2 separate regions of the Homo sapiens genome follow, and region 1 is linked to region 2. A link means that fine-mapping ties the variant in region 2 to the expression of a gene that starts in the linked region. Tissue or cell type: whole blood. Region 2 holds a variant in brackets; the other region holds the start of a gene. All regions are shown on one strand. Distances are between the middles of the regions.

Region 1 (2,754 bases), 67 kb before region 2:
ACAAGCATGAGCCACTGCGCCCAGCCATCCATATGCTTGATACCCAACTCTTGCACGCTAACACCAGAAGCATGCGTTCAGTCTACCTGCTGGGCAATCCAGCTCCAGAAGGTCTGAATCAGAGCTGTAGGATGGGGTTTTCAGGACCATAGTGCACACTGGGCTTTGGGTGGTAGGCAGGGAGCCCGTCCAGCTCTGGGCAGGGGGGTGGTACAGTGGACTATGGAAGCTGAGTCACATTCTAAGGAGAGAATCAAGAGCTCCCTAAGTACCTTGCCACTCCAAGCCTCAGTTTTCTTATCTGTAAAATGGAGGTAATAATAGTGGCTAAATAAAGCCACTATTATTAGAAGCTTAGAAGAAACGATACAGATATGTAAAGTAGTAACAGTGTACTCTGTTATCCACTCCACAACTATATATTGAGTGGTTACTATGTGCCACGGAGCAGTTCAAGGCCCTCAAGATAACCCGTCTCTACTGAACAAAACCAAGAGCTCTTCACAGACGTGGTGTGGAGTGGAGTGGCTGTTAGCTTAGTAGCCGTGGGAGCCATACTGCCTGGGGTTGCATGACTAGCCGGGTGATCTTAACCTAGGTACTTAATATCTCTGTGCCTCAGCTCTTTTGTGTTAAATAGGTGAGTAATGGTATCAACCTCATAGGCCTGTGTGACAGTGAAGCGAGGTAATGCACAGAAGGCGCTTAGAGGAGTGCGTGGCTCAGTAGTGTTAGGTGGGGGTGGTACCCAAAGGTAGGGCCTCCCCATTGTCTAGTGTCCTCAGGGCTCTCCAGCCAGCGAGGCTGGCAGCAGCGCCCCCGGCTGGTCCCGAGAGAAGGAAGGGCGTCCTCCTCGGTTCCCAGCGGCGCTCCCGGCTCCTCTCCTCCCTGCGGACGGGGAAGCCTCGGTAACCGCTGTAACTGCTCGGGGAAAGGAGCGCTTCCCTGGCCGGGCTCGGCGCGCGCACTGTACCCGGCCGGGATCGTCACATCCAGGGCTCAAACAGCCTTAAGAGGCCGACGCGGTTACTGTCTCCATTTCACAACGGGGGAAACTGAGGCTCCGGGAGGTCAGGTTCCTCATCCCACACCACGCAGCGAGGGCACGGCGCGACGTGGGGCCCGCGGCTCTGCCTGTCCCCAGCCTCCGCCTGGTGGCCGGCAGCCCGCCCCAATCACTGCGGCGTGTGCGCGCCTGTTCCCAGCACGTGTGCGCGCCCCGAGACCCGCCCCGGGGAGCCAGGAGCGCGGTCGGGGTCGTGGGGGCGGAAAAGGGTGGCCAGGGCGGACCCGCGGGGCGGGCAAAAGGGCGGACCTTGGGCCAGGCCCCCGCCCCGCCCTCCGGCCCCGCCCGCCGGGCTGCAGGGGGAGGCGGCGGCGGCTCTGGGCGCCGGGAGTCGGCGGGCGGCGAGGAGCGCGGAGCCGGAGCTGGACGCCGCCGCCGCCACCGCCACCTGCGCGGCAGTCATCAAGGTAGGGCGGCCCTGCGCCGCCGGCCGTGCCTTCCCGGTCTGCGCGATGGGGGCGTCGGGCGGGACGTGCGCGCTGCGGCTGCAGCTCCCGGAGAGGGAGGGATGCGGGGCTCGGAGCGCGGGGGACCTGGCTTTCAGCCCCTTTGCGTGACCTTGCACAAAGCACTGCTCCTCTCCAGGCCTCAGTTTCCCCGTCAGGATAGCTTGCTCATTGGTGGCCCCCTTCTCGCGGGGTTGTTGGGAGGGGCCGCCTCGAGGTCCGGGCTCCCGACGGCTCGCTGCCCTCATGAGCACTGTCTGCACCGCCCACCCCTCCTGCCCGCGGTGAGGGAAGCTCACTCTGGGCGCGGCCAGCCGGTCCCGACAGGCCCCTGCTGTGGCCCGGGTGCTCCATGGGACTCTTGTCGGGACCCTCCCCCTCTTGGCTGCGTTACCTGCTGGGCCTCAGCTTCCTGGTACAGGAAACGGTGGGGTGGGGGGCATCCCCGGGTCCCCGCCAAGCCGGCCTGGGCGTGCATGTGGGGCATCAGCCGGCCCGCCAAGAGGGTTTACTCGTCTGGGGCTGGAGGAGCCCTAGGTTGGAGGTGGCTGGACTCCTGGCGGCACGACTGCCTGGACCAGCCCCACGTAGGCACCTCGATTTAGAGAGTGGTATAGGATAGCTCCTTCCCCTTCCCCACCCGGGCCAGGTGCTGGTGCCTAGCTCTGTGTCCCAGAGCTAGTGTGTGATAAGGTGTGACACACACTAGCTGGTGTGACAAGGGGTGACTGGCGGCCACGCCTGGACCTCAGAGGGGTGACAGTGCCAAGGTGCTGTGTCCGCGTGGCATTAAGGGATGGGGCAGAGCACAGGTCTGAGGGACTGTGGTCCCAGGCTCCCTAGGTAAAGAAGACCTATGGCATCTGGCCCAGCCCCTCTGTAAGATCCCCTCTGGAAGGTCTTGCTGCCCCCTTGCACACTCCTTGTGATAGGAATCTCACTAGTTGTAAACCAAGCTGGAATCTGCTACCCAGTCACTGCCTCTCCTGCTGGTCCTGCTCTGGACACACAAACAACCTCTGACCCTTCCTCCCTCACCCTGGGGCAGTGGTCAGGTCCCTTAAATATGCTCATCTCCAGACCCAGCAGCCCCAGGCCCAGCAGTTTCTCCCATCAGATCCCAGGGAGCCAAGGCAAGAAGAGGGAGCCGAGGTGTCTGCCCTGGAGCAGGCTGTGGGGCCTCCGCTTTCCTGGGGCTTGTTCAGAACCCACCTGTGCATCAGGACTGGAATGTGTCTCCCC
Region 2 (2,754 bases):
CTCCCTGGGCCTCAGTTTCCTCATCTGTAGCCATGATGCCAGCCTCCCCTGCTTTCTGGAGGTGGTGAGAGAACTAATGAACTTGGTAGATGGTGGGGTGCAGTGTGGGTGGGACTGTCCTTACAAAGCAAGGGCAAGGTCTCATGTGAGTTTGAAGTGTTTGGGGGCTGCTTCAGTGCACGCACCGTGCTGTTCCTACAAACCAAGCTTCACTCTGAGGGTGGCACACGTGGGTATTTGTATCTGTTAGCCCTGCTCTGTGGGTTTGGGCCTGTCCACAGGTAGCTGTATTTCCCACACATGTTGCATGGGTCTGCATGGCTCTGAGTGTCTCTGCATGCCTGCCTGTGTCATTGGTGCCCCATATGCCCATCTTCCCGTGGGCACCCCGTCCTCACATGGCTCTGCTTCCCTTCCAGACCCAATCCTGGTGTCCCTTAGGCCTGGCTCTGAGCTGCTGAGACCCCACCCACTGCCTGCAGAGAGACCTATCTTCAATTCCATGGCCCCAGCCTCACCCCGGCTCTTGAATCAGACAGAAAAGCTGGCTGCAGAAGATGGCTGGAGGTCTTCCTCCCTGTTGGAGGAGAAGATGCCAAGGTGGGCAGCAGAACACAGGCTGGAGGAGAAGAAAACCTGGCTGACAAATGGCTTTGACGTTTTCGAATGCCCCCCACCAAAGACAGAGAATGAGGTGTGAAGGAGGACGGGGTGGGCCTTTCACATGGGGCAGCTGGGGTGGAGGGGAACAGATCCAGGCTGAGAAGAAGGGAGAAAATGAGGCATGAGAAGAATAACCAGCTGTGTGGCCTGGCCTAGTCACTTGACTCATTTTGTTAATTCATTCAACAAACAGGCAGTGAGCTCCATCTTATGCCAAAATGATGGGCATACATAAAGATGGTGGGAGGCTGGGCACAGTGGCTCACTCTTGTAATCCCAGCACTTTGGGAGGCCAAGGCGGGCAGATCATGAGGTCAGGAGTTCAAGACCAGCATGGCCAACATAGTGAAACCCCATCTCTACTAAAAATACAAAAATTAGCCGGGTGTGGTGGCGTACACCTGTAGTCCCAGCTACTTGAGAGGTTGAGGCAGGAGAATGGCTTGAAATTGGGAGGTGGAGGTTGCAGTGAGCCAAGATCACACCACTGCACTCCAGCCTGGGCAACAGAGCAAGACTCCATCTTAAAAAAAAAAAAAAAAAA[AG/G]ATGGTGGGGACCAGGTGACCAGGTGCAGTGGCTCACACCTGTAATCCCAGCACTTTGGTAGGCCAAGGCGGGTGGATCTCTTGAGGCCAGAAGTTTGAGACCAGCCTGGCCAACATGGCGAAACCCCGTCTCTACTAAAAATACAAAAATTAGCTGGGTATGGTGGTGCGTGCCTGTAGTCCCAGCTACTCTGGAGGCTGAGGCAGGAGAATTGCTTGAACCCAGGAGGCAGAGGCTGCAGTGAGCCAGGATCACACCACTGCGCTCCAGCCTGGGCAACAGAGTGAGACTCTGTCTCAAAAAAAAAAAAAAAAAAAAAAAAAATGGTGGGAAACCATCTGTAAAATGGAGAGGGTTTGACCTAGTGGGTATCAAAGTCTTTCCAGTTCTGACATTATAGGACTTTCTGTGCTTTCAAAGTCCACATTTGTTTAGTGCCTACTGTGTGGCAGATCCTGGGGTAGGCACTTTGATACAGCACGTGATTGAATTCTCTCAACAGCCCTGGAAGTCAGTCTGTAGTGGCTAAGAACACAGAGGCTGGCATCTCACAGATGGATTCTGATCCTGGCTCTGCTGAGTACTAATTTAGGGTCTTAGACCCAGAGACTGAATGTCTCTAAGCTTCCGTTTCCACGGTGGTACGGTGGGGACACTAGCACTGCCACCCTTATAGGGGTGTCACAACGTTCCAGTGGGATAACGAGGCCCTTAGGGCATCACTCAATATCTAACACCCATTCTGCACAGAGGGCAGTTTTCTGACCCCATTTTCCAGAGGAAGGAATGGAAGCTCAGAGTGGGTAAGTAACTTGCCCAAGGTCACACAGTTCAGTGGTGGCGAAAACACCAATCCCCAGACTTCAGAGCCAGGCATCCTTTCCTCTATTTCATGGAGGATCTATGGAAGCAAAATACATCTGAAACATTCCAGTCTTCTTGAATTTCATTTATTGGGTGAAGTAAACAAGGTGTTTGTAAAAGATCTATGCAGTGACAGCCCCATCAGGCCTCAGCCATGTTAATGTGACCGCCTCCACCTTTCTGAGTCAAAGAGGGATAGTGGTTTAGCTTTCAGCTGGTGTCCTGACACCATGGTGATCCTGCCTTCCGATCTTTCTTCCCCAGTTGCTGCAGATGTTCTACCGGCAACAGGAGGAGATCCGAAGGCTCCGGGAGCTGTTGACCCAGCGAGAGGTCCAGGCCAAACAGTTGGAACTGGAGATCAAAAACTTGCGGATGGGCTCAGAGCAGCTCTGAGCAGAGACCTCTGCCCTCCTCACCCTCAGGGACACCACTCGGCTCCATGGGGAGGTTTAGAACCAAACCACAAGTCCCCTCAAGGACAACCACTATTTCTATATTTTTTACCAGAAAACAAAACTCTCCATCGCTGAAAGAGATTCCAGTGGGACATGGTGCCGTTTTTCTGTTTGCCTTCTTGCAACAACAGTTTCTGAATTGACTTTGTTTTCAGATGATGCCTTCTGTTGAATTCTGTTATTAAGGGCCCATGATGAGCTGTAACTTCTCAAGAGGAAAGAA

What was found. PIP is the estimated chance that this variant, and not a neighbour inherited with it, causes the effect.
Region 1: CORO2A starts here. The variant in region 2 is fine-mapped to the expression of CORO2A in whole blood (INTERVAL, PIP above 0.99).

Annotation. Positions count from the first base shown.
Region 1 is chr9:98,191,278-98,194,031 of GRCh38, reverse strand. CORO2A (coronin 2A) reads left to right here and starts at 1,395. Exons shown (of 12, transcript NM_052820.4): 1 at 1,395-1,473. RefSeq lists silencers at 1,066-1,615, 1,686-1,735 and an enhancer at 1,888-2,542.
Region 2 is chr9:98,124,489-98,127,242 of GRCh38, reverse strand. It overlaps CORO2A (coronin 2A), which reads left to right. Exons shown (of 12, transcript NM_052820.4): 11 at 420-694; 12 at 2,338-2,754. The coding sequence ends at 2,469. Among named protein-coding and RNA genes, the nearest start is that of TRIM14, 6.6 kb to the right of the region's middle. The variant AG/G (reference allele first, on the strand shown) is at 1,208.